Homo sapiens: one gene and its partners. The protein of the gene in region 1 purifies or fractionates together with the protein of each later gene. This does not show direct contact. Each region holds a gene or a part of one and is shown in the gene's direction. Other genes may lie near its edges. The genes, in order: DIAPH1, MYO1E, COPB1, KIF5B, PLXNB1, NSUN2 and ROCK1.

What was found.
Region 2: the proteins of DIAPH1 (region 1) and MYO1E fractionate together in Homo sapiens (co-fractionation; one large-scale study listed by BioGRID). This does not show direct contact.
Region 3: the proteins of DIAPH1 (region 1) and COPB1 fractionate together in Homo sapiens (co-fractionation; one large-scale study listed by BioGRID). This does not show direct contact.
Region 4: the proteins of DIAPH1 (region 1) and KIF5B fractionate together in Homo sapiens (co-fractionation; one large-scale study listed by BioGRID). This does not show direct contact.
Region 5: the proteins of DIAPH1 (region 1) and PLXNB1 purify together in Homo sapiens (affinity purification with mass spectrometry; one large-scale study listed by BioGRID and IntAct). This does not show direct contact.
Region 6: the proteins of DIAPH1 (region 1) and NSUN2 fractionate together in Homo sapiens (co-fractionation; one large-scale study listed by BioGRID). This does not show direct contact.
Region 7: the proteins of DIAPH1 (region 1) and ROCK1 fractionate together in Homo sapiens (co-fractionation; one large-scale study listed by BioGRID). This does not show direct contact.

The regions. Positions count from the first base shown.
Region 1 is NC_000005.10:141,525,001-141,528,500, reverse strand, and holds part of DIAPH1 (protein diaphanous homolog 1), read left to right. Parts: coding exon 1-48; intron 49-803; coding exon 804-928; intron 929-2,039; coding exon 2,040-2,204; intron 2,205-2,327; coding exon 2,328-2,463; intron 2,464-3,500. UniProt on the Homo sapiens protein: Actin nucleation and elongation factor required for the assembly of F-actin structures, such as actin cables and stress fibers. Binds to the barbed end of the actin filament and slows down actin polymerization and depolymerization.
Region 2 is NC_000015.10:59,201,872-59,205,371, reverse strand, and holds part of MYO1E (unconventional myosin-Ie), read left to right. Parts: intron 1-2,964; coding exon 2,965-3,046; intron 3,047-3,500. UniProt on the Homo sapiens protein: Actin-based motor molecule with ATPase activity. Unconventional myosins serve in intracellular movements. Their highly divergent tails bind to membranous compartments, which are then moved relative to actin filaments.
Region 3 is NC_000011.10:14,468,812-14,472,311, reverse strand, and holds part of COPB1 (coatomer subunit beta), read left to right. Parts: intron 1-2,748; coding exon 2,749-2,976; intron 2,977-3,451; coding exon 3,452-3,500. UniProt on the Homo sapiens protein: The coatomer is a cytosolic protein complex that binds to dilysine motifs and reversibly associates with Golgi non-clathrin-coated vesicles, which further mediate biosynthetic protein transport from the ER, via the Golgi up to the trans Golgi network.
Region 4 is NC_000010.11:32,035,926-32,039,425, reverse strand, and holds part of KIF5B (kinesin-1 heavy chain), read left to right. Parts: coding exon 1-99; intron 100-599; coding exon 600-648; intron 649-1,207; coding exon 1,208-1,263; intron 1,264-1,818; coding exon 1,819-1,906; intron 1,907-2,047; coding exon 2,048-2,172; intron 2,173-3,431; coding exon 3,432-3,500. UniProt on the Homo sapiens protein: Microtubule-dependent motor required for normal distribution of mitochondria and lysosomes. Can induce formation of neurite-like membrane protrusions in non-neuronal cells in a ZFYVE27-dependent manner.
Region 5 is NC_000003.12:48,420,087-48,423,586, reverse strand, and holds part of PLXNB1 (plexin-B1 precursor), read left to right. Parts: coding exon 1-82; intron 83-639; coding exon 640-822; intron 823-1,127; coding exon 1,128-1,256; intron 1,257-1,381; coding exon 1,382-1,482; intron 1,483-1,780; coding exon 1,781-1,913; intron 1,914-2,202; coding exon 2,203-2,359; intron 2,360-2,630; coding exon 2,631-2,739; intron 2,740-2,813; coding exon 2,814-2,922; intron 2,923-3,329; coding exon 3,330-3,500. UniProt on the Homo sapiens protein: Receptor for SEMA4D. Plays a role in GABAergic synapse development. Mediates SEMA4A- and SEMA4D-dependent inhibitory synapse development. Plays a role in RHOA activation and subsequent changes of the actin cytoskeleton.
Region 6 is NC_000005.10:6,623,045-6,626,544, reverse strand, and holds part of NSUN2 (RNA cytosine C(5)-methyltransferase NSUN2), read left to right. Parts: intron 1-875; coding exon 876-981; intron 982-3,259; coding exon 3,260-3,331; intron 3,332-3,500. UniProt on the Homo sapiens protein: RNA cytosine C(5)-methyltransferase that methylates cytosine to 5-methylcytosine (m5C) in various RNAs, such as tRNAs, mRNAs and some long non-coding RNAs (lncRNAs).
Region 7 is NC_000018.10:21,105,314-21,108,813, reverse strand, and holds part of ROCK1 (rho-associated protein kinase 1), read left to right. Parts: intron 1-3,500. UniProt on the Homo sapiens protein: Protein kinase which is a key regulator of the actin cytoskeleton and cell polarity.

The DNA.
Region 1 (3,500 bases):
TCCTCAAGTTTCCAGACGAGCTTGCCCATGTGGAGAAAGCCAGCCGAGGTGGGGCAGTTTGGAATGAAGCTAGAGCCCAAAAGTCTCTGCATGGGGAGGGAAATAAGACACAGTCTAGATGTGAGAGCATTTTCAGTTCAGACTATTTCAAGTGGAAATGAGATAGGATTTAGGCATGGTGCCTAAGTCACAAGGGCAGAGCGTATGGCTGAGGAGAGATCTTTATGTGTAGAAATAGGAAGCACTCTTTCTCTTCCTAAGGAAACACCAAACACCAAAAAACAGCTAGAAAGGCAGGTGTTTTTAGTCTAGGTTAATAGTTCTTTTCATTAAGAAAACATAGACTACATTAACAAAAATTAGGCCTCACTGTCCTGGAACTAGACAAAGAAAAAGCAGCATTCACTGGAAATTGGAACAGATTTCTGCCCCCGCCTCTATATTTCTATGTATATCTCCTTCCTCCCAAACCCTGTTCTCTAAAATAAATGAGACCAAGATCTCAGGGGATTTCATAGATTCATGTTAAATTAAATGAAGTCTCTCTTCTGTTCCTAGTACTGCATACCTTGTGAAGGCTGGAGGTTCAATGATCAAATAATTTATAGTTTCACTGGAAAGATGAAAACTTAAGTATGTGACACAACTAAAGTACATAAGGAACTAAAATTATTAAGTACCAGAATGTGTGTATAGACTGAAGCTATGCTCTGAAAGGTGAAACTAAGGGGTGTTGAGGCTGGGATTATTAGTAAGCTCTTGCTGTCTGTTTTTATGGTTTTTTTTTTTTTTTTTTTTTTTAGTTTCTGCTGAAAACTTGCAAAAGAACCTAGATCAGATGAAGAAACAAATTTCTGATGTGGAACGTGATGTTCAGAATTTCCCAGCTGCCACAGATGAAAAAGACAAGTTTGTTGAAAAAATGACCATATCCTCTCTTGAAAGGAGGGAGTTGTTCCCTAGGAAGGGAAAGAAAACTTCCTGTAGTGGGGGAAAAACAGGATAGATAGGGCAGTATGCAATTTTTTTCTCTTAAAAAACTCTTTTTCTTTAAATACATAGTTTTTTGGGTTTGTTAGTATTTTGAGACAGGCTCTCTCTGTGTCACCCAGGCTGGAGTGCAGTGGTGCCATCACGCCTCACTGCAGCCTTGACCTCTTGGACTCAAACGATCCTTACCCCCTCAGCCTCCTTGGTAGCTGGGACTACAGGCATGTGCCACCAGGCCCTGCTAAACTTTTTGTAACCTTTTTTTCTTTAGAGATGGGGTCTCACTTTGTTGCCCAGGCTGCATAGTTCCTGAGAGCATTCCATTGTTGTGGAGTAGAAGCACACCATGCAGATCAACCATAAAAGTCCCACCAACTCCCCTGCCTGTACCCCGTCTCCACTACACACGCTCACACATGCTTCCCTCTCTTTCCCCTCCCCAGAGGTAACCACTGCCACTGGACTTTATTCTGATTTGCACCTCATACATTTATTTTAAACAAAAACTGCATTGTATTGTGTTTTGCACATATGTCTTGGCCATGTTTCCATAATAGTATTTATAGAAAACCTCCTTTTAGGTCAAGAGATGGAGACCATCCTGGTCAGCATGGTGAAACCCCATCTCTACTAAAAATACAAAAAAATCAGCTGGGCGTGATGGTGCGCGCCTGTAGTTCCAGCTACTTGGGAGGCTGAGGCAGGAGAATTGCTTGAACCCAGGAGGTGGAGGTTGCAATGAGCCAAGATCGCGCCACTGCACTCCTGCCCGGCGATAGAACAAAACCCTGTCTCAAACAAACAAACACAAACAAACAAACAAACAACAGTTTAAACTGCCACCTTCTTTTTTTATAGGTGTACCATAGTTCATGGTTTACTATTCCCCTATTTAGGGGTACCTACATGGCTTTGGTTTTTGCTGTTATAAACAGTGCTGTATTGAACATCCCTTTGCATGCCAGTACTCATCTTTGAGTAATTCCTTGGGCTAGAGAAGTGGGTCTGCTTCTTGGTCTTGGTCTTGGTCCTTTACTCCTTGGCTGCACAGCTTTGTGAAGGATGCACAGGAACAGTATAACAAGCTGCGGATGATGCATTCTAACATGGAGACCCTCTATAAGGAGCTGGGCGAGTACTTCCTCTTTGACCCCAAGAAGTTGTCTGTTGAAGAATTTTTCATGGATCTTCACAATTTTCGGAATATGTTTTTGGTGAGCAAGGGATACTTGCTGACTGAATCTTTTGTGGGCATTTCTCACTTTCCCCTGGGTTCCTGTTGGCTGGTAGTAGGTATACAATGCCCATGTGTTCCTTCCTCCTCTTCCCTGCCCCAGCAAGCAGTCAAGGAGAACCAGAAGCGGCGGGAGACAGAAGAAAAGATGAGGCGAGCAAAACTAGCCAAGGAGAAGGCAGAGAAGGAGCGGCTAGAGAAGCAGCAGAAGAGAGAGCAACTCATAGACATGAATGCAGGTGAGGAGTGAAGACGGGTTGATGGGCTGAGATAGGAATGTTGGGAAGACTTCTCTGCCTAGAGTCTAGAGGCAGAGTCTCATGTCTGAGCTCACCTCCTGGCAAATGATTTTTGGCAGTCTTCACTCCGAGATCCTGATGCCGGACTTTAACCCCAATTCTGATACATGCGCATTCCAACTTGCCCTGGTTAAACTATTACCTTTTCTCTCCTTTGCTCGCTCTTGCATTCTCTCTCATTCCCCTGTGATTGTGGTATTGCTGTGATATATACTGTTTTCCTTCTGTCCATCCAAAGGTTCCTCTGGCCTGTTCTCATTCCCTCCACTAAATCTTTCGGGTTTTTTTCTGTAAAATATTTTCCTGACGCTCCTCCCATCTTTTAATTGTGGCGTGTCTTCCCTTTCTGCTTATTTCACAAAGTACTATGTCCCTAGTACCTTAGCACAGTTGTATGCACAATTAGATTTTAAATGGATTGAACTTTTGGAGCGGGTGGGGAGCCGGTCACCCTCTTCTTTCTTCAGCAGAATCTCTGTTTCACTACCAGAAGCATGTCTTTGTTGAAACATATGGTTTCAATTACTGGCCCTCTGTTTCCTGTCTCTGCTTCTTTCTTGCTGCAGATTCCCTACCCCTTCGCCCCCACTGCTCTCTCTGTGGGCAGCGGAAATACAGCATACACTGCTCACACAGCACTGAGCCCATGCCACCCTCCTCTAAACCTGAGGGGCCACAAACCTTCTGCAAATGAAGAGGTGTTCACAGAGCTGCTGAGTTTGTTAGGAATCAGTATTTTACAGAGCACAGGCACAAGGGCTGCTCTGATACCTCTTGCTACCAGGGACTTTTTATACTTTTCTGTAAAGCAATTTCCTTGCCCTTAGTTGTAAGCCACAACTTCGTAATGCTATTAAAGCCCACACCAAGTATCCTTCACCTTCCCCTGGGACTCCAGGGTTTGTCCCCAGGTACTGGCTAGGATGCAGTGGGGGAAGGTGGAGTCCCGCTGACATGTGGGATGAGGGCTGCACACG
Region 2 (3,500 bases), on another chromosome or scaffold:
GGATATAGGTTTGATGAAATTTTCAATATGAAAACAAACTTATGAGCTGGGTGTGGTGGTGTGTTCCTATAGTCCCAGCTACTCAGGAGGCTAAGGCAGGAGGATCACTTGATCCTAGGAGTTTGAGGCTGCACTGAGCTGTGATCACTCCTGTCAATAGCCACTGCCCTCCAGCCAGGCAACATAGGAACACTGTGTCTCTAATAAAGAAAAAAACAAAAACAAAACAAAACACCTGTGATGTTTAGTGGTTAGCATTTTGTTCCTTCATGCTATTGGGTCTGGATTATCATTTAATCTATTTGGTTTCTCAAAATAGCTTTCTTTTCTCTATATCAGTCTCTCCCTTTTATGTCCCTAACACTTCATGCCCCCAAATTCCAAGTGCCATCTACAGGTCCTTCAGGGCCTCAGGCTTTCTACCTTTCAATACTATTATCAGGGAGAAATAAGCCCACTGGCTTTGGATTGGGATGGCCATTTCTGACTATTTAAGAGTGGAACAGTCTGGTTCTATGATACTTTGCCCCTGAGCTCTTCTTCATGGTCGTTGAATTTTTAAAGATGGTTAATGGCTTAGCAAGACCCACATTAACCAGAGTCCCTGAAGTACTGAAGAAATGGCTTGAGAACTCTGGGAGGGACAACTAAAGAAGGAGTGACTAAGAGATCCATTTTAACTCCCAAGACCCTGTTTCAGCTGTAGGGGTAGAAGAGGGAGGGTATCCCCCTTGCACGCTGCTAGAACTCTCAAGACCACCTCTGCCTTCCTCCCCTTTTCCCTGAAAAGGTTCTCAAGATCCTGGATAACACATAAGATGTAATTTACATGAGCAAGTCCATCATGCTTGCGAGGCAAGGCCCATGCATGCCAGATCTTACAATTTCTAGAGCTTCTTTCAAGTAAGAGCTGCCCTTTTGCTCTCTATTAGTTAAGCTGTCACAATAGCAAGGCCAGCTTCTCTGATCAACAGCAGCGAGCCTGATAATTTCCTATTAAAGGGCTGACTGCAATGAAAGCAAAGCAAGAGTTTCCTTTTCAGGCCCTGGTCAGCTGTTCTGCTCCGTTTACTTCTCTCCCTGTAGCTCCCTACCCCTCCTCACCCTCTGCTCTCCATCCCTGCGCTTCCTTGCAGCCACACCACCATTTCTGAGATTTTGCATTTCTTTTTATTCAAAACATACATAATCAATTTGTTCTTCTCTGAGATGTTTAGGTAAGCCACAAGTCCTGGCTTGTGGGTTTTATGGCAGTCAGGTGCAGACTTGCTTCCAGAGATTGTTTTTAAAAAATTATTAAAATTCCTGCCAAGTTTAAGAGCTATTATTGCTTCCACATAAACTGCTGTCATACGGACATGGCCTATTATTTTGTAAACACACTTGATGTCAAAATCTGTAGTTGTATCTGGTCAAGTTAAAAGTAGACTGCTGGGGAGACTTCCTGGAAAATTCAAGATGCCCAAAAAGTCATTGAGGAGGAAGTGAGTTTGAGTTTGAATGTCAGATTGCTAATTTACATGGATCCCGTCATTCACCCAGTCAGCAAATACATATTATGGACCAACTGTGCACCATGCTATGCTTCAGACACCAGGGACACTAAGATGAGTAAGGCATTGTCCCTGCCCTGTTGCTAGTGAGGCAGACGTATAAACACATGCAGCTCAAATAGCACCACTAATGAAAGTATCTTCAGGCTGGGTGCAGTGGCTCATGCCTGTAATCACAGCACTTTGGGAGGCCAAGGTGGGTGGATCACGAGGTCAAGAGATCGAGACCACTGTGGCCAACATGTTGAAACCCCGTCTCTACTAACGATACAAAAATTAGCTGTGGTGGCACGCACTTGTAGTCCCAGCTACTCAGGAGGCTGAGGCAGGAGAATCACTTGAACCTGGGAGGCAGAGGTTGCAGCGAGCCAAGATCGCGCCACTGCACTCCAGCCTGGTGACAGAGCGAGACTCCATCTCAAAAAAAAAAAAAAGAAAGTATATTCAGCCGGCAGAGCCTGGTGATTTGTTACTGCTCCGCTTAAAATTGCTCATACTCAAAAGCAGTTTGTCAGGGTTTTCTGTGTAGAGCTGGGAACAGTGTGCTACTGGCATCTGGTGAGCAGAGACCATGGATGCTGCTAAATATCCCACAATATGTAGAAGAGGCGCCCTCCTCGGCCCCCAACAAAGAATTATTCAGCCGCAGATACCAATGGTGCCCAGACTCAGAAACTCTGCTCTAGAGCAAAGCAGCATCTGCACTGAATCCAGACATTTCATATAATTCCCTGAGCTCTGGTCTATCTTGCTTGTCTTAACAAACACATGCTGGCCAGGCGCAGTGCCTCATGCCTGTAGTCCCAACACTTCAGGAGGCTGAGGCAGGAGCACCTCTTGAGTCCAGTTGTTTGAGACCAGCCTGGGAAACATGGCGAAACCCCATCTCTAAAGAAAATACAAGAATTAGCTGGACGTGGTGGCGTCTGCCTATATATAGTGCCAGCTACTCAGGAGGCGGAGGTGGGAAGATGGCTTGAGTCTGGGAGGTCGAGGCTGCAGTGAGCCATGATTGAACCCCTGCGCTCCAACCTGGGCAGTAGAGCGAGACCCTGTCTCAAAAACAAAACAAAAACCTAAAATCCCCTACTGACCTCCCTCTGTTATGTTCTGTCAAGATATACCTCAATTCCTGTGACTAGGGACGTTGGAAAGGCATTGTTTTAAAATTTATTTTGCAGTCTTTGATTCCAAATTGCTTATATCTTAGAATTCTTTCCCTTCATGACTTTTGTCCGTTGTTCATTTCCCCAAGTCACATCTTGATGGCCCGCGCTGTGAGTCAGATGGCTTTTCTGTAGCCAAGGTTATGTGCCTGGGGACGGCCCTTCACCCCATCCTCTAGAAAGGCAGGCTTTCAGCCCCAGAGGTACTTACAGATTGTTAATTCATTCTCTTTCTCCTTTTCCAGGCCTTTCATAAAGTCTTTATTTCCGGAAAATCTGCAGGCTGACAAGAAAGGGCGCCCAACTACTGCCGGAAGCAAAATAAAGGTTAGTTCTATTTTAGGAAGTTTATAGATTCTTATAAGGGCTAGCGCTTTCTAGGAGTAAGGAACTGCACCCCTGGGCCAGGATGAGGTCAGTGAGACGTGAGGAGGTGGTTACAGAAGATGCCCAGAAGTAACATCGCTGCTTGTTACAAGGTTCCAGGATGCAAGCTGAATTTGACTTGGCTGTACCGAAACCTTAAATGGATATTAAGTACCTCATAGCTTAATAGTCAGCAGATGATAATCAGCTACTTTCTAAGAGGAAATGGCTTTAAACAGAACCTGGAAGAATTTATGTTAAACTGTCAGAGAAATATGGTTCGGAGCCATGTTTTGGATACTGTTGACAGTTTACCAGGCCAGGCCCAAAAACCTGCCAGTTATGGAACGTTACTTGCCAGAAATTCTACTTGGTCTTTTAGGGGCAATTTATGCATCCCTCCTCACTGGGTCCT
Region 3 (3,500 bases), on another chromosome or scaffold:
CTTTTAAAATATTACTGTTCATTGACAATTTAGCTGGTCACCCAAGAGCTCTGATGGAGATGTAGAAAGAAATGAATGTTTTCATGCCTGCTAAGACAACATCCATTATGCTGCCACTGATCAAGTAGTTTCAACTCTTATTATTTAAGAAACAGAATCCATAGAACATTTGTGGTAGTAGCGCAGAGTTGGTTACAATGTCCTACCACAGCAATTTCTGACATTCAAATTGGGCCTGTAGCAATGGGACTCCTTTTGATTCCTTCAGCTTTCGTATTATGTTGGTTATCTATACAGCAGGTTTCTAAATTGAAACACTTTCACTCACATCACTCATATTTCCTTCGTTTTTGGAGACTAACAGCTTGATCTAAAAAAAAATTTTTTTTTAGACGGAGTCTCACTCTTCTTGCCCAGGCCGGAGTGCCATGGCATGATCTCAGCTCACTGCAACCTCCGCCTCCTGGGTTTAAGCAATTCTCCTGGCTCAGCCTCCCGAGTAGCTGGGGCTACAGGCGCCTGCCACCACGCCTGTCTAATTTTTTTTGTATTTTTAGTAGAGACTGGGGTTTCACCATGTTGACCAGGCTGGTCTCGAACTGCTGACCTCAGGTGATCCGCCCACCTCGGCCTCCCAAAGTGCTGGGATTACAGGCATGAGCCACCGTGCCTGGCCAGGTTCTTTTTGTTTTTGTTTTAATTCCATTATAAGAAAAGCCATAAATGAGAGCCAGATAATTTACAAGGTATATTATCCCTTAATTGATTTGATTTTTGAGCAATAATTTATTTTGTAACTCTTTTGTGGGCATTTATTTATTCAGGTCTGGTCACAGTATAATCTTTAAAGTATGTTTTTTAAAAGTCTCCAACATTTTTTTATCTCAGAGTTGAATTTGCTTTCCTCTCCTGGTTGCATCACTTCTGGAAGTTGGGAGTGTTTACTGATACCTGCTTAAAAGAGCCAGTTTCTTGTAACATACCGAGTTAATAATGTTTGCACTGTTTGGTACAAGAAGGAAGTTTGGTTGCTTATAATCTCACTGGCACTCCTTCATTTATGCCATTTCCAACACTCTTCATTTCTTTGTGTAGGACTAAGTTTCTGGTATCATACATCTTTTGCCTAAAGAATTTGCTTTAACTTTTCTTATAGTGCAGATTTGTTGGCAACAGATTGTTCCAGTTTTTGTCTGGAAAAAGCCTATTTTTTTGTACACTTTAGAAAGTTACCTTTGTGGGTATAGGATTCTAAGTCTTCTGTTTTTTTTTCCCAGTAGTGTAAAAGTAAAGCTCCATTGTCTTCTGGCTTTTTGGTGAGAAGTCTACTGTCATTCTTATCTCCCTGGGTGTAGAGAGAGAGAGAGTGTGTGTGTGTGTGTGTGTGTGTGTGTGTGTGTGTGTGTGTGTGTATTTCTTCCACTGGTTTTAGATTTTCTCCTTTTCACTTGGTTTCAGTAATTTGATTAGGATATGCCTTAGTGTGGTTTTCTTCATGTTTGCTGTACTTGTGGTTCATTGAGCTTGTTGGGTTTGCAGGTTTATATCTCCATCAGTTTGGGAAATTTTCAGTCATTTCCTCGGATTTTTTTTTCTGTCCCCTCCTCTCTTTCCTCTCCTTTTGGAGACAGTATCCAAACTTGGGGGACATATACTTACTCTTCTGCTGGTTTTTCCCAGGCCTCCAGTAGTTTTTCATGCATGTGTGCAGATCAGTACTCAGCCAAAGGCAATTTGGCAAGGGCTTAGAGCATATGTGTCAGGATAATGCTACATGAGACTAAAAAAGTAAGTTGCAATCACTTGTGGAAGACTTTGAATAGCGAGCTAAGTAATACGGACTTCAGTATGAAGGCTGACATTCATTAAAGGTATTTACATAGGGAATGAAATGATTGGTGCAGTATAAAGATTAAGATAGCAGCATCAGGTGATCACGCTTAGCAGCACAATAATTGGACAGCCTAACTTTAGGTACCTTGTGATGCAGTACAGGGTGAAATACAAAACATCACCTATCTGGTATTCTAATCAAAAGTGTGGGATATTCTATAAAACAACTGGCCTCAGTTCTTTAAAAAAGTTAGTGCGATTAAAAACAAAACGGCAGAGAACTGGTCTAGATTAAGAGGGATAAAATGCATGAAGCTGATCCTGGATTTAAAAAATAAAACAAAAACATTTTAAGACAATTTAGGGAGATTTATTTGAATTCAGAGTATAGAAGCTGTATTTTGGAATTGTTGAATTTTTCAGATGAGAAAATGAAATTGTGGTTTGTAGGAAACTGTTCTGACTCTTAGGAGATGAATGCTGAAGCATTTATGAGGTGAAGACTTTTTCACATGTCAGCCAAAAAAAATAAGTGTACATATACAGAATAGGTAAGCAAATGTGGCAAAATGTTAACAATTGGTAAAGTATATCATTCTTTTAACTTTTCTGTAGTTGGGATTAAAAAGGACAGCATCAGCATATGAAGTGGTTACAGAGAAGGACTGGAGCAAGGGAAAACAGTTAAAAAGCCTCTGCTGTCTCTAATTGAGGATTAATGCAGGTCTTAGAGAGTGGCAGTTAAGAGTAGAAAGGAAGGAGAAGAATGCAAAAACAGATATGGACATAAAATCCAAAGAATTTGAAATCTTATTCAGGTGAAGTGAAAATTTAGATTGTGAGTTATAATGAAGTGACATGATTGCAATCTGAGAATCAAGACAATATCAGTAACCGATTTCTTTACTTTCTTAGTCTTTTGTTGCTGAGGCTATGTTGCTCATGGCTACTATCCTGCATTTGGGAAAATCCTCTCTTCCTAAGAAGCCAATTACTGATGATGATGTGGATCGAATTTCCCTGTGCCTCAAGGTCTTGTCTGAATGTTCACCTTTAATGAATGACATTTTCAATAAGGAATGCAGACAGTCCCTTTCTCACATGTTATCTGCTAAACTAGAAGAAGAGAAATTATCCCAAAAGGTAAGGTATATATGATGAGGCAACAAAAGTGTTTTGTGTCTCTTCGTGCAGTGGCTCACGCCTGTAATCCCAGCACTTTGGGAGGCTGAGGCAGGAGGACTCCTTGGGGCCAGGTGTTTGAGACCAGTGTGGGCTACATAGCAAGCCCCTGTCTCAACAAAAAAAATGAGAAAATTAGCCAGGCATGGTGGTATGTGCCTGTCATTCCAGCTACTTGGAAGGCTGAGGATGAAGGATCGTTTGAATCTAAGAGTTCGAGGCTGCAGTGAGCTGTGATCATACCACTGCACTCCGCCTGGGCAACAGAGTAACAGCCTGTCTCAGGAAGAAAAAAAAGAAAAGAAAAGTGCTTTGTGGGTTTTCTTGTTGTTTTGTTGATTTTTCAGTTTTCATATGTGAGGGCTGTCTCTGTCAAAAGCCTCTAAAAAACTATCTTTTCATATTAAAGAGAGACTTTGTTATATTCTCAACACAGAAAGAATCTGAAAAGAGGAATGTGACAGTACAGCCTGATGACCCCATTT
Region 4 (3,500 bases), on another chromosome or scaffold:
CTTCATGATCCAGAAGGCATGGGAATTATTCCAAGAATAGTGCAAGATATTTTTAATTATATTTACTCCATGGATGAAAATTTGGAATTTCATATTAAGGTAAATTCCTTGAGGAAAGATTATATTTTATTTTACAGCAAGAATAATGTTCTAAAAAAATAGTAAATGCTGGTTTCTTTAATTTTAAAAATTGTTTTTCTGGAAAGGTACAGTTGAAAGATCATTCAGGTTAGTAAACTTGGATTTTTGTTCATCTGCCATTAGATGAACAGGAATGTTAACTAACGTAAATGATTAAGTCTTTAGCCTCCTTCAAAAAATAAAGGAGGTTGCTTTACTGCAGAACTTGAAGGTTTCTACTACATAAAACTATTCTAATTCATTTTAGATGAAGATAATGTAATTTATGTCCAATGGGAAGACTGCTTAAATAACTAAGCTAATTTGGCTAATTTATGTCTTCCCATTAGAATGTGAGCTATGGCTGGTATGTTGATAACTGTCTCTCTAGTCTAAACAATGCCTAGCACTCAGACCTCAATATGCGAATAAGTTATATAACTTTAGTTGATCGGTGTTTTTTTAAATTTGCCCTTTAGGTTTCATATTTTGAAATATATTTGGATAAGATAAGGGACCTGTTAGATGGTAAGTTAAATTCTTGCTAATCAGTTTTAAATAACATCTGTTAATTCCTTTTTAATAATAGATGTGAGACTATTTCTTTGTAACCTATATGAAATTGTCTTAAGTTATTGGAAATAGACAAAATTTTTTTTCTTCTAAAGTTTTAGTTGAATACCTTTAAATAGAATAACTAGTTTAAAGCGATGTTTATGGGTACTTCTTAGTAGTAATTAGAGCATTGGACTGGGAGTTACATAATCTGAGCCCTGAGTTCTAGTCTTCTGTCAACTGTCAATTAGATACATTGTCCTTAGGCAAATCATTGAACCATTCAGGGTTAATGTTCTTGTTTATAAAATGTGGGTGGTAGGTTGGAGTGGTCCTAAAATTCTATATTGTTGCATTGGTTTCTATTTACATCTCCTGCTGTGTCTGTAAGGTCTGCTTTAGAGCAATGTTTTAATATGTTTTTAGAGTTCAACTATTGCTGTTAGGCTGCTCAGGAAAGCCTATCAGTTATTTCATATCCAGTGTTAAGAGTTTTAGGAGAATGTTGCTAACATTTGTTTTTCTTTCTCAGTTTCAAAGACCAACCTTTCAGTTCATGAAGACAAAAACCGAGTTCCCTATGTAAAGGTATTTATAGTACAGTTGTCTAGAAAACCCTGTAATACTTTTTTTTTTTTTTTAAGACAGAGTCTCACTCTGTCGCCCAGGCTGGAGTGCAGTGGTGCAATCTCGGCTCACTGCAACCTCTGCCTCCAGGGTTCAAGCAGTTCTCCTGCCTCAGCCTCTTGAGTAGCTGGGATTACAGGCATGCGCCACCACGCCCAGCTAATTTTTGTATTTTTAGTAGAGACGAAGTTTCACCATGTTGGCCAGGCTGGTCTTGAACTCCTGACCTCGTGATCCGCCCGCCTCTGCCTCCCAAAGTGCTGGGATTACAGGCGTGAGCCAATTCATTTAATATATGGAGGCTCGCTCTGTTGCTCAGGCTGGAGTGCATGGCATGGTCTCGGCTCACTGCAACCTTTGCCTCCCAGGCTCAAGCGATTCTCCTGCCTCAGCCTCCCAAGTAGCTAGGATTACAGGCACCCGCCACCGCGCCCGGCTAATTTTTGTGTTTTTATTAGAGAAAGGGTTTCATCATGTTGGCCAGACATTAACATATTTTTAAAAATTATTTCACAGGGGTGCACAGAGCGTTTTGTATGTAGTCCAGATGAAGTTATGGATACCATAGATGAAGGAAAATCCAACAGACATGTAGCAGTTACAAGTAAGTAGAAAATAACACTGGTTAGGATTTAAAACCAGCTTAAAATATCCTTATCCAGGTGATTAATTATAAGATTGCTTCAGGGAAATTGTTAAGGGGAAATCATGTTTGTTTATATTTGTTTGTGTAATTTCCTTGCAGATATGAATGAACATAGCTCTAGGAGTCACAGTATATTTCTTATTAATGTCAAACAAGAGAACACACAAACGGAACAAAAGCTGAGTGGAAAACTTTATCTGGTTGATTTAGCTGGTAGTGAAAAGGTAAAGTCTTCATGTATTTTGACAAATATTTAAGCATCTTTGTAAACTTTAGTTTGAGTTGGGAGTTACGCAGGGTTCATTGTTGCATCTTACTTACCAAACTGGATTTGGTAACCTGAGATTTGTAACCGCTGATGCCAGTGCCTTATGATGATATCAGCTGAATAATCAGTTCCAAGTTACTGTTGTTTGACCATACTCTAGTTCAACCCATAAGTGGTTTCTATGACTTAAGATATGTTCATAGTGAGAACTGGTTCAGCATATGTTGTTATAAACTTTATTAGATATCCCTTTTCTAATTTTTGATACGTATTTTATCCATATTGGCAGTGGGGTCCCTATTAAAACTGGTAACTCTCGATTAGTCTTTTCTGGTTTGGTTGGACTTATTTCTTTCCTTTGGATTATTGTTTCATTATTACAATTCTATACAGTCTGATTCTAGTCTATATCAAATTAAGTTTGAATGTTATAATAGGGACCTCTGACCATTTTTGCTGTTGTGCTAATTTTGTTTCTTCTGCTTAGAATGATATATCTATTCCGTTCTACTCTGAAGTCTTACACACATCTTTCAAAGATTATCTAATCTGAGAAATCTCCTAAGCTATTTCTTCAGCCAACATTGCTAATTTATTGTTCTGACCTATCTTTAACATAGATACTAGCTGGGCATGGTGGCACATGCCCGTAATACCAGCTACTGGGGAGGCTGAGGCAGGAGAATTGGTTGAACCCGGGAAGCGGAGGTTGCAGTGAGCTGGGATCAAGCCACTGCACTCCAGCCTGGGTGACAGAGTGAGACTCAGTCTCCAAAAAAAAAACACCACAACATAGATATTTAGATATTTTATATATTTTTAAAAGAAGCAGATTTGCTTATATAATGTGTTTAAAACTCAGTCTCTGTTTTCTAACAGTTACAACATCAACATTATGCATTAGCCAATTTTAGAAGGTTCCTGTTTTCTAATGTAGCAAAGGGGACTAACAGATTAATGAACTACAAATTTACATTTAAATTGGTTATTTTCAAGAGTACCTACAAACTACAGATAAAATTTGATGTCTCTCTAATCAAACTCTTAAGAGTAGTACTCAAGAAATGGTGGTATGCTTGGCAAATAAGATCATGAAGCTTTTCATGTTCTTTTTTCTTTTTTACTGGTTATTGATGACATATGAACATTTTAGAAAATGTAAAGAAAATTATAAACTTGTAATTTTGTTTCATTCTTTTGAAATCTTATGTATAGGTTAGTAAAACTGGAGCTGAAGGTGCTGTGCTGGATGAAGCTAAAAACATCAACAAGTCACTTTCTGCT
Region 5 (3,500 bases), on another chromosome or scaffold:
CCGGGAGGGTCGTGCTGAGGATGGGACCGAGGTGGCCTACATCGAGTATGATGTCAATTCTGACTGTGCACAGCTGCCAGTGGTGAGTTCCAGTATTGCCCCACTTTTCCGCCTCTCTGAGGCCACTGGCCAAGCATTTGCAGCCAAGGAGCTGCCCAGAGAGTCCGAGGGCAGCTGGTGGTAGCACGAGGATGATCAGATCAGCAAATATTAAGTGCTTCCTATGTTGCCTGGGCAGTGGAAGGGTACCTTACCACAAATCTGGCATGCGGGTGGCAGCAGTGTCTGGATGGGCTTGGACCAGGATGCTGGAGGGGTGGCACTTGTGTCGGTGGATTGGGAGGGTGTTTGGGGGTTCTTGGGTAGGGACAGGGACCTAGAATGGAATGAGACCTTTGGTTCTTGAGCAGGAGAGGAAGGTGAGGTCGGGATTGATGAGCTGTAGCCTCAGGATGGATAAAAAAGGGAAGAGAGACTGGGGGCGGGGATGAGATTGTCCCAGGAGGGCCAGCAGAGAAAACACAGTTGTACAGGGAGAGCTACCAGAGCGGCTGGGGGAGGGAATGAGGTTGTCCAGGGACGATGCGGCCGAGGAGGTTATCCAGGGAGGGCCTTCCTGATGCTTCTTGCTGCCTATAGGACACCCTGGATGCTTATCCCTGTGGCTCAGACCACACGCCCAGCCCCATGGCCAGCCGGGTCCCGCTGGAAGCCACACCAATTCTGGAGTGGCCAGGGATTCAGCTAACAGCTGTGGCAGTCACCATGGAAGATGGACACACCATCGCTTTCCTGGGTGATAGTCAAGGGCAGCTGCACAGGGTGAGCCCACAGGAAGTACTGGCCCCTGCCCCAGAGTCTGGAGGGAACAGATTGCTAGGGACCCAGCCTGGTTTAAGCTATCCCTGTGACCCCTGGGCCAGGAGAGATGACCTGAGCTCCTCTCCCCAGGACTGGGTGGTGTTTACCTGTGACTTTCCTCCATCCCCGCTAGGCCAGTTGGTATGACCTGTGACTGCCTAGGAGGAAATTCTATTTGTAAATTACTTCGATTGGGTGGAGGAGGGGAGGGCTTTGGGCCTCTGGCCATGGACTTGGGTCCCAGACCCTGTGGTCTCTGATCCCAGGTCTACTTGGGCCCAGGGAGCGATGGCCACCCATACTCCACACAGAGCATCCAGCAGGGGTCTGCAGTGAGCAGAGACCTCACCTTTGATGGGACCTTTGAGCACCTGTATGTCATGACCCAGAGCACAGTGAGTGCCAGGCACAAGCCAGGGCATGGCTGCTGGGAGGGGCCTCTGGGTGGGGCCAGGGACCCACTTGTGGGTGAGCCACTGGTGTTTGGATTGCTGGCCTCAGGTCCTCTTTGCTGTCTCAGCTTCTGAAGGTTCCTGTGGCTTCCTGTGCTCAGCACCTGGACTGTGCATCTTGCCTTGCTCACAGGGACCCATACTGTGGGTGGTGCGTGCTCCTTGGCAGGTCAGATTTCTGACCCCATCCCAGCCCCAGCCTCAAGCCCACAATGCTCCTGCATAATTGTCCTGTCCAGAATTCCTGACCCTTAGACCATGACTCTCAACCCCTGATCCCCAGACACCCCAATTCCTCACCCCCATCCTCTGCACTGGGCATCAGTGCCCTGCCAGGGCAGACACAGGAGCCTCTATCATGCCCACTCTAGGGCCCTGCCCAGGTCCTCCAGATTGTAGGAGTCCCTACCCTATGAACTCCCAGTGGCCCATGAGGGTCACAGATAGACACTGGTCATCTCGCCCAGGTGCAGTCGCCGTTCTGAGTGCTCGAGGGGCCAGGGCCCAGAGCAGTGGCTATGGAGCTTCCAGCCTGAGCTGGGCTGTCTGCAAGTGGCAGCCATGAGTCCTGCCAACATCAGCCGAGAGGAGACGAGGGAGGTGAATGATCAGATAGGCAGGGCCCTGGTGGGGAGGGCTCTGGGCATCAAGGTCTGGGTAGAGATCTTGGATCCTGATGTCGGACATGCCAGATACCACATGGCCTCACACAAGTCACTTCTTTTAGGAGCTCAGTTTCCCCATCTATTTCTAACTCAGGCCAGAGGGTGTTTGGGGAGGCCTGAGGGCTGTTGATTGCTGGTGCCTGCCCACATTGGGTGTCCCATAAATGTGAGCCCTGGTCTGCTGCCCACTAGCCCCAACAGTGTGTCCCTGGCTCTCTTGGCAGGTTTTCCTATCAGTGCCAGACCTGCCACCCCTGTGGCCAGGGGAGTCATATTCCTGCCACTTTGGGGAACATCAGAGTCCTGCCCTGCTGACTGGTTCTGGTGTGATGTGCCCCTCCCCAGACCCTAGTGAGGCCCCAGTGCTGCCGAGAGGAGCCGGTGGGTGAGAGAATGGGCCAGCCTGGTGGGGGCCAGCCCCTGCTTCAGGGGATGCGGTGGGGTTAAAGTGTGAATCCAGGCAAAGAGCCATGAATGGATGCCTTTCTCTGGGTCCTCCCACTCCCCAACCACCTGAAGCCTCCATTCTGTGCCCTTGGACTGTATTCCCTCATCCCGGGTCCTCTTCCCCATTCAAGGGCTCAGGATATCGGCTCTGGGTCTGAGTGCACCTCCTTGCTGCTTAACCCTGGCCCTCTCTCCCCCTCTGCAGACTACGTATCCGTGAGCGTGGAGCTCAGATTTGGCGCTGTTGTGATCGCCAAAACTTCCCTCTCTTTCTATGACTGTGTGGCGGTCACTGAACTCCGCCCATCTGCGCAGTGAGTTCCTCGCCCTGTCCCCAGGCCTGGGCTTCCCTGTGGCGACCCTTGCCCCATGGCTGTGCTCTGTGCAGGTGCCAGGCCTGTGTGAGCAGCCGCTGGGGGTGTAACTGGTGTGTCTGGCAGCACCTGTGCACCCACAAGGCCTCGTGTGATGCTGGGCCCATGGTTGCAAGCCATCAGGTGAGTGTGACTTTGGGCTGGGCCATACCGGGGGGGTTGGGGGTCCCAGTGTGAGAGTTTTTCTCATGGCCCGGGGTCTGTCTGCCTATGTGAGGCTCTGTCCTGAGCACCAGAGCCGCTGTATGTGACGGACTCCCTGGAGAACAGCCGCCGATACATCCCGCCTGTTTTGGGAGAGGGCATTTGTAGCTGAGAGGCAGGGGATGTCTGGCCTTCATGCCCCACCTCGGCACAGACACCCCTGGAGCCTTCCCCCGCAGTTTTCTCCAGTGGAGAATTAATGGGCTGTTTTTATTTCTCTTTTCCTTGGTCTCCTTTCCTCTTAACATACACTGTGCCTGCCTGCCTCCTGTCCCGCGCCTGCCTGCTGAGTGGCCCTTCCTGTCTTCCTCTGCCTCCCCCTTCAGAGCCCGCTTGTCTCCCCAGACCCTCCTGCAAGAGGTGGACCCAGCCCCTCCCCACCCACAGCCCCCAAAGCCCTGGCCACCCCTGCTCCTGACACCCTTCCCGTGGAGCCTGGGGCTCCCTCCACAGCCACAGCTTCGGACATCTCACCTGGGGCTAGTCCTTCCCTGCTC
Region 6 (3,500 bases), about 130 Mb from region 1:
AAACCACATCTCTACTGAAAATACACGTCTGTAATCCCAGCTACTCAGGTGGCTGACTGAGGCATGAGAATTACTTGAATCCAGGAGGCAGAAGTCACAGTGAGCTGAGATTACACCACTACACTCCAGCCTAGGTGACAGTGAGACTGTCTCAAAAAAAAAAAGGCAGTGTTTTTAGTATCCCCCATTTCTCCCCTAATTAAAAAAAATAAAAAAAATAAAAATAACATTGATGTCATCATTTATAGAAAGTTCAAATATATTCACAGATATGATGGCAGGAAATGCTTTATTCTTAGTTATATATAGGTAACAGCCTAGGAGCTCAAGTTAATGCATTAGTGGTTTCCAAGGTAGGATTTTTTTGGTATGTAAAATATTTTAGTGCATTATTGAACTGGTGTTAGAAATAATGAAAAATATATTTTTTAAAAAACTAATCAGGTATTTGTGGGACACTCTGACACTGCATTATTTTGATTCTGTGTGATCTGCACATTAAGTAAGTCATCTTGTATCTTTTTTTTCTGATGACCTTACCATTGTTACCTTATAATGGTGAAGAGCAGAGGAGTGTCCGCTTTTTCATCTGATCTCGAGCGTTTCATCATTATAATTTTACAGTAATATGCATAATCTTGTAACCCCCATGGCTCTCCTGTTTCTGATTGGGCCACGGTGTAGCTAGAGCCATGTTCCTTAAGCCTACAGCGACATCTCTGAGTGTTGCTGACTGTCCGTAGAGGATTGTGAATAGGAGCAGGGAGAACAACATTCGAAGTCTCATTTGGCATGCGACTGATAGAAGCACAAAGTTGTCAACAGACGACTTTAGTATTTATAATCCATAAATGTTTTGCTTTCTTTTTGGTCAGGTATCCTGAAGAACTTGCCTGGCACACAAATTTAAGTCGAAAAATCTTGAGAAAATCGCCACACTTGGAAAAGTTTCATCAGTTTCTAGTTAGTGAAACAGAATCTGTAAGTTGATTTCTTTAGACTTGCTAGTTTCCTTAAAGCTGTAAATGCATAGATGTAGTGTAGTTCTGTTTTTAGGTTCTTGTCACTAGAAGCAGTAGGTGGACATCACACACAGTAAAGACAACTGCAGTGTGTGCACCACCTGTGATTTCTGATTATTTGTATATCCGTTGCCTTGTTTGGTTTATCTAGTCATGAAATTTAGTAAGGATATCGATGCCAGCTAGTTAATTTCTTGTTTCCTCTTGCTTGTGTATTTGGATGGCTATAGGGTTGGGGTGAGCACTGCACTCTCATTTCCTTCTTAGGTACACATTTCAGATGCCTGTTGTACATAAAAAGTAGTATGTTTTTAAGGCCATCTTGGTAGGGAATAGGTTTTTGGTTCTGTTTTTTAAAATTGATTTATTTTACTAAAAATGAAGCTTTTGATTTTACTTTTTACTGTGTTTTTTTTTTTTCTTACCACACATTGCTCTTGGTAACCACAAAACACCTAAGCACCACAAAACCCCTAAGCACAGCTTTGGTCCTCACAGGACGGCATCTGTCTTCACATTCTCCGTAGCCACCCACATTCCTTGAGTGCAGTTAAGGTGCTGAGCTTTTTACCTTTAGCATCAGAGCATCCCCAGCAAAACAGCTATTTGCTTATGTACTAAATAATTCAATGAATGCCCATAAAGTTTGGGTATTTTTTTTGGAATTCTTAGTCTCACATTTAAAATCAGAGGTTTCGTCCTTCCTATTTTCTAAACTACTACCTTCTAGTAAATCTGTGTGTCACCAGATTATGGTTCTTTTTCACTTTGGCCTTCTGTCATCTAAGTAACCGACTAAACTGGGCTTGTGTCTGCCTGGCTTTTCCTTCCTGAATAGTAACAAGAACCAGGAACTAAGTGCTGCCACATAACCCCATTTCGTACTTGAGACCAGTGCACGAAAGGATTCTCTTGCTCAACTTTCAATCTAGATGGAAGGCCAAATAGAGATCAGTAAGCTGCTAGAGAACAGCTCAGGTTTGCACTTGGAAGAGAGCGTGGGGTTTGTGGGGTGTGATACACATGGATAGGTTGGAAGAGCCAGGTTTTGGCATGTTTGGAAGATGGAGGAGATGGGAGTTTAGGGTGGGTAGCAAATGTTGTAGGGAACTAGTATAGGTTTTTGATTAGGAGTCAGCGTGATGAGAGCTCTTGAGATGAATGGCAATAACCTCTGGGTTATGGAAAGCTGGCCACAAAACATCTACACAGGGTGGTCATGAATCTGGTTACTGTCTGCCGGGATGTCCCCATCTTACTTAATGCTTTAATCAAAACCTTGGATGGATACAGAAGGCAGGCATATCAGGATCACACGTATAACTCAAAAGCTTGGAATCAGTGTGCCTAGTGAGTGAATCACCACAGACTCATGCTGGCCAGAAACCCATGAGGTGAAAATTAGCAGCCATCAGTGTAAAAGCCTGTATTTAAGGCTCTTGACAGTCACATGCCTGAGTTTAAGGTGAGTGATGGATGCCTGGGTGGCTGTTCATTTCCAGAAGTCCCAGCTTTTGTAGGGTTGTGTTGGAGCAGAAGCCTCAGCTTCAAGGCGATTAAAGTAGAGGTGTGGTTGAGGCTAGTGCTGGGCAGGGCAGGAGGATTTTGTCTGCACCTGAATAGTTCTGCCTTGTAACAGATGTCCTGGCCGACTAGAGAAGACAGAGGGCAGGGAGTGTGGTGAGGAATTTTAGATATTGAAGGTCTAAAGATGGAAAGATGGAAGCAGTGGTTGATGTCTTCATCTCTTTGAAAGGTAGTTATGAGAAATAGAAAGTGGGCATGGGCTATGTCTGAAAATAGTGGAGGACTAAGAAATAGAATTTTAGGCAAGAAGGAAAAACCATTTGACAGTCACTTTCTGTCCTAAGTTGATGCTGTCTGTTGAAGGTATTTGTTTAAATATTTAATAGCATTTCTGTCTTTGAGAGCTGCCCCTCTAGCTTCTGTGCTCTACTGCTATGGGGAGTTGGGGCTCTGTAAGCTTCAAGTCCCTTTTCTTTCATGGAAGTTGGTATTATACCTGAATTTCTAATATTTGAATGGTATAGCAACCATTTGTCCGCTAGTGTACAGATCCATCTCATTTAGTGTTCTGTGTGATAGTATGAGTTCTCTCATTCTGTATAAGATTATGTGCTGTTTTCCTGTTGCCTTTGAAACAATGCCAAAGATTGAAATTGTCTGCGGTTTTTTTTTTTTTCCTAATTGTTGCTGATTTTTTTTTTTTCCTCAAGGGAAATATTAGTCGTCAAGAAGCTGTTAGCATGATCCCACCACTGCTCCTCAACGTGCGGCCTCATCATAAGGTAGCATATAGCAACTAGAAACGTGGGGGCGGGCAGCTTGTTACCAGTGTCATGCCTGTTTGTTTTGATGAAACCATTTTTTCTTAATATAATTAGTCCTTTTTTTCTTCTTTTCACTTTGGATAGAGAGTGATATGTACGTATCTTAGTTTCTTTTTTTTTTTTTTTT
Region 7 (3,500 bases), on another chromosome or scaffold:
GGTGTGTGGAAGATGGGTTAGCATGGGAAAAGATTGGAGAGACAGTGAGATTGGACAGTTTTTTAAAATTGTTATTATTGTAATAGTCCAGAAATGATTGAAGCCCAAAATTGGGGCATGAGAATGAGAAAAGAAGAATTAATGGAACTTTATTGGCAGGGAAAAGATGGGGAACCAAAGAGAGAGGCAATAGTCAGATGACTCTAAAGAGGTTGAGCCTGGATTATAGGGAGAATGGTAAAAATAGCAAAGTCAGGTTTGGAAATTGCTTGTGAAGAATAGGCCTACAGATAAATTCAATTTTAGATTCGTTGTGTTTGAGGGGATAGTGGAGCAATCATGAGAAAATGACCTGTAGACTGTTGGAGATACAGAACTGAGCTCATAATTACAGATAATGATTTAGAAGTCATTTGCACAAAGGTGCAAGTTGATATAATGGTAAAGGGAGAAACAATGGAGGGAAAAATGAGGGTGAAAGATGAAGGTTGAACAAAGAGGAAGAGTGGAGGAGGTAAGCCATCAAGGCCTCCAGAGTTAGGACAGCCAGGTATCATGGAGCCCAACACTTCTAAAACAACATTTTGTTAAAGAGAATAGTCAACAGACAGATTTGGTTGTTTTTTCCCCTTCAAATCTTATAATCTTGTCCTCTTTTTCTGTTTAGTTCCACAGCTGTTTATTGATAGCTGTTACTGAAATTTTATTACCCCGTCAATCTGAACTTGGTAAAGACTGAATTTTCCTTTTTTTTTTTCTGAGATGGAATCTCACTCTGTTGCCCAGGCTGGAGTGCAGTGGCGCGATCTTGGCTCACTGCAACCTCCGACTCCTGGGTTCGAGTGATTCTCCTGCCTCAGCCCCCACGAGTAGTTGGGATTACACGCGTGCACTACCACGCCTGGCTAATTTTTGTAGTTTTAGTAGAGATGGGGTTTCACCATGTTGGCCAGGCTGGTCTTGTACTCCTTACCCCAAGGAATCCGCCTGCCTTGGCCTCCCGAAGTACTGGGATTACAGGCGTGAGCCACCGTGCCTGGCCCAAGACTGAATTTCCTTTAGAGACAAAAAATCCTTTTTCTGGGTTTGTAGTATCTAGCATGAATTTTCTTCGCATGATGTTTTATGTTTAACATTGAGCATTCGTTCGTTCATTCATTCATTGTGTCATTCAGGGTGACCTATCAGGTGACTTCAGCTTTTTCAGTGAGTCTGTTCTTGTTCTTCCCTATCTGGACTTTGGACCTCTCATGTATTATAGGAACAAAACTCCTTTTACATTGGTTGCCTTTTTCTGTTATTTTGACTTTTGTTGATTTGTGTAACTGATACTTACTTATTAGTGTGTATTATGTGCCACGTGCAGTCCTTTAGTTCTAGAGTTGTTTTTGTAATCCCAAAAATAAGGTTTTCAAATTGTTTCTTCTCTACCTCCTTTACTAGATTCATGCTTAGAAATGGAAACTTCCAAATCTTTTGGTTTCAGAAATTTGCTGGTGTATGTCCTTTTAAACTACCTTACCTACTAAACAGCTTTTTTGTTGAGACACTAATGATGAATAGCATCCGTAATCTGAAATTTGAAGTGCTCAAAATCTGAAACTTTTTGAGTGCTGACATGACGCCATAAGTGGAAAATCCACCTGACCTTGTGAGATGGGTTGCAGTCAAAATGCAGTCAGAACTTTGTTTCATGCACAAAATTATTAAAATATTGCAAAAAATAACCTTCAGGTTGTTGTGTATAAGGTATGTATGAGACGTAAATGAATTTCTTATTTAGACTTGGTCCCCATCCCCAGGGTATCTTATGTATATGCAAATATTTTAAAATCTGAAAAAGTCTGCAGTCTGAAACACTTCTAGTTCCAAGCATTTTAAACAAGGGATACTCAACCTGCAGTAGTTTAGAATAATGTAGCTGGAAGAACTCTGATAAGTGGCTATCCAATCTTTTCTCGAACACCTGTAATTTTTTTCAAGAACTAAGTAAGTTCAATCTTCATATCATGTATAAATGCTAAAATAGTCTGCAAATACTAAGATACATTATGATAACCATTCACTTGTTTCCTAGAGCATTCAAATTAGTCAACTTTGGTTTTCTGTAGGTCAGATTCTTTCCAGTGTCCTAATGGTTGTCTTTCTTACTGTCCATGTTACAGTTTATAAGGATTATCGGGAGCTATTTCTCTTTTCCGGACTTCCTTATCTTCTAATTATTTTGTCTAGGGCCTGTAATAATTTCTCAGTGATTTTGAGTACCTTTGAAAACAGAATAAGGGATGGAGTTTAGTTAAGTCTATTTAATCTTTGCAGAGGAAAAAATGCTTATGATTTGTAAATTAAATAGGAAAAACAAGGCCGGGTGCAGTGGCTCGCTCCTGGAGGGCTGAGGCCAGAGAATTGCTTGAGCCTAGGACGGGGAGGTTGCAGTGAGCCGAGATTGTGCCACTGCACTCCAGCCTGGACGACACAGTGAGAACTTGTCTCAAAAAAAAGGAAAAACAAAAATGGTTGGGAGGGTTATAGATACATTTGTTTTGAAGTTTGACATACTTTTCATGAAAATATCTTGCTTGTAGCATATTTATTGGCACATCGCTTCATGATGCCTGTTAAGAACATGACCTTTCCACTTCTCTTCTGGCTGGTGGAGGTGTAGCAACGGGTGAGCGGAGGAGACAGAAGGGAACCAGTATTAGTCAAATAGTGCCTGTTGAGTTCTAACACTGTGCTGTTTGTCACTACTATTTCTTATTAGGGAGTTTTTCAGAATGTGGAAGATAAATGTAAATGAAATTTCTGGTGTTAGTCTTTGAGTTTTTCTTCCTTTAAATTATCTTCCTGGGCTCTCTTGACCTAGTGCTTTCCCATCTTTTCATTCTTCTTTTTTTCTTTTCCTCAATCTTTGGCCTATCATACTTATCTTTGTCTTCACTCTCTTGAAGAATTCATCCATTCTTACAGCTTCAATTATTATTATCTCTATGTACATGATACCCAAATCTTTATTTTTAGTCTTTTGTTTCAAACCTTAAATATCTGACTGCCTTGTAAGCATTTCTACTTGGATGTCATGTTAGTCTCAAATCCCTCATATTCCAAAACAAGCTTCCTCCCATAAACTTATCTGTTTTGTCATTAATTCCACTATTGTCCCTGTCGCTAAACTGAAATTTTTGTTGTGAACTTTTTTGACAGTGTTAGTCCACACATTGGGTTATTACAGCAGATTTTGGGTAGCATTTTCGAATCTGGATTATTGCTGTCTAATCCCCTGTATGCCTTGCCAGTTGAATTGATCTGTTTTGGGGGTATATTACTCTTGGAATGAAAAGACCTGAGGTCATTAAATCTTTGAGCCTTAAAGTTGTATCTCTGCCAGTGTTCCTAGTTTGTGAGTTAATAGGTGTTATTAGTATCAATTGCATATCTGGTTAGTTTGGACCAGACTTTTTTGGATGTTAGTATGTTGCAGGAACTTCTTTTAAAAAAAC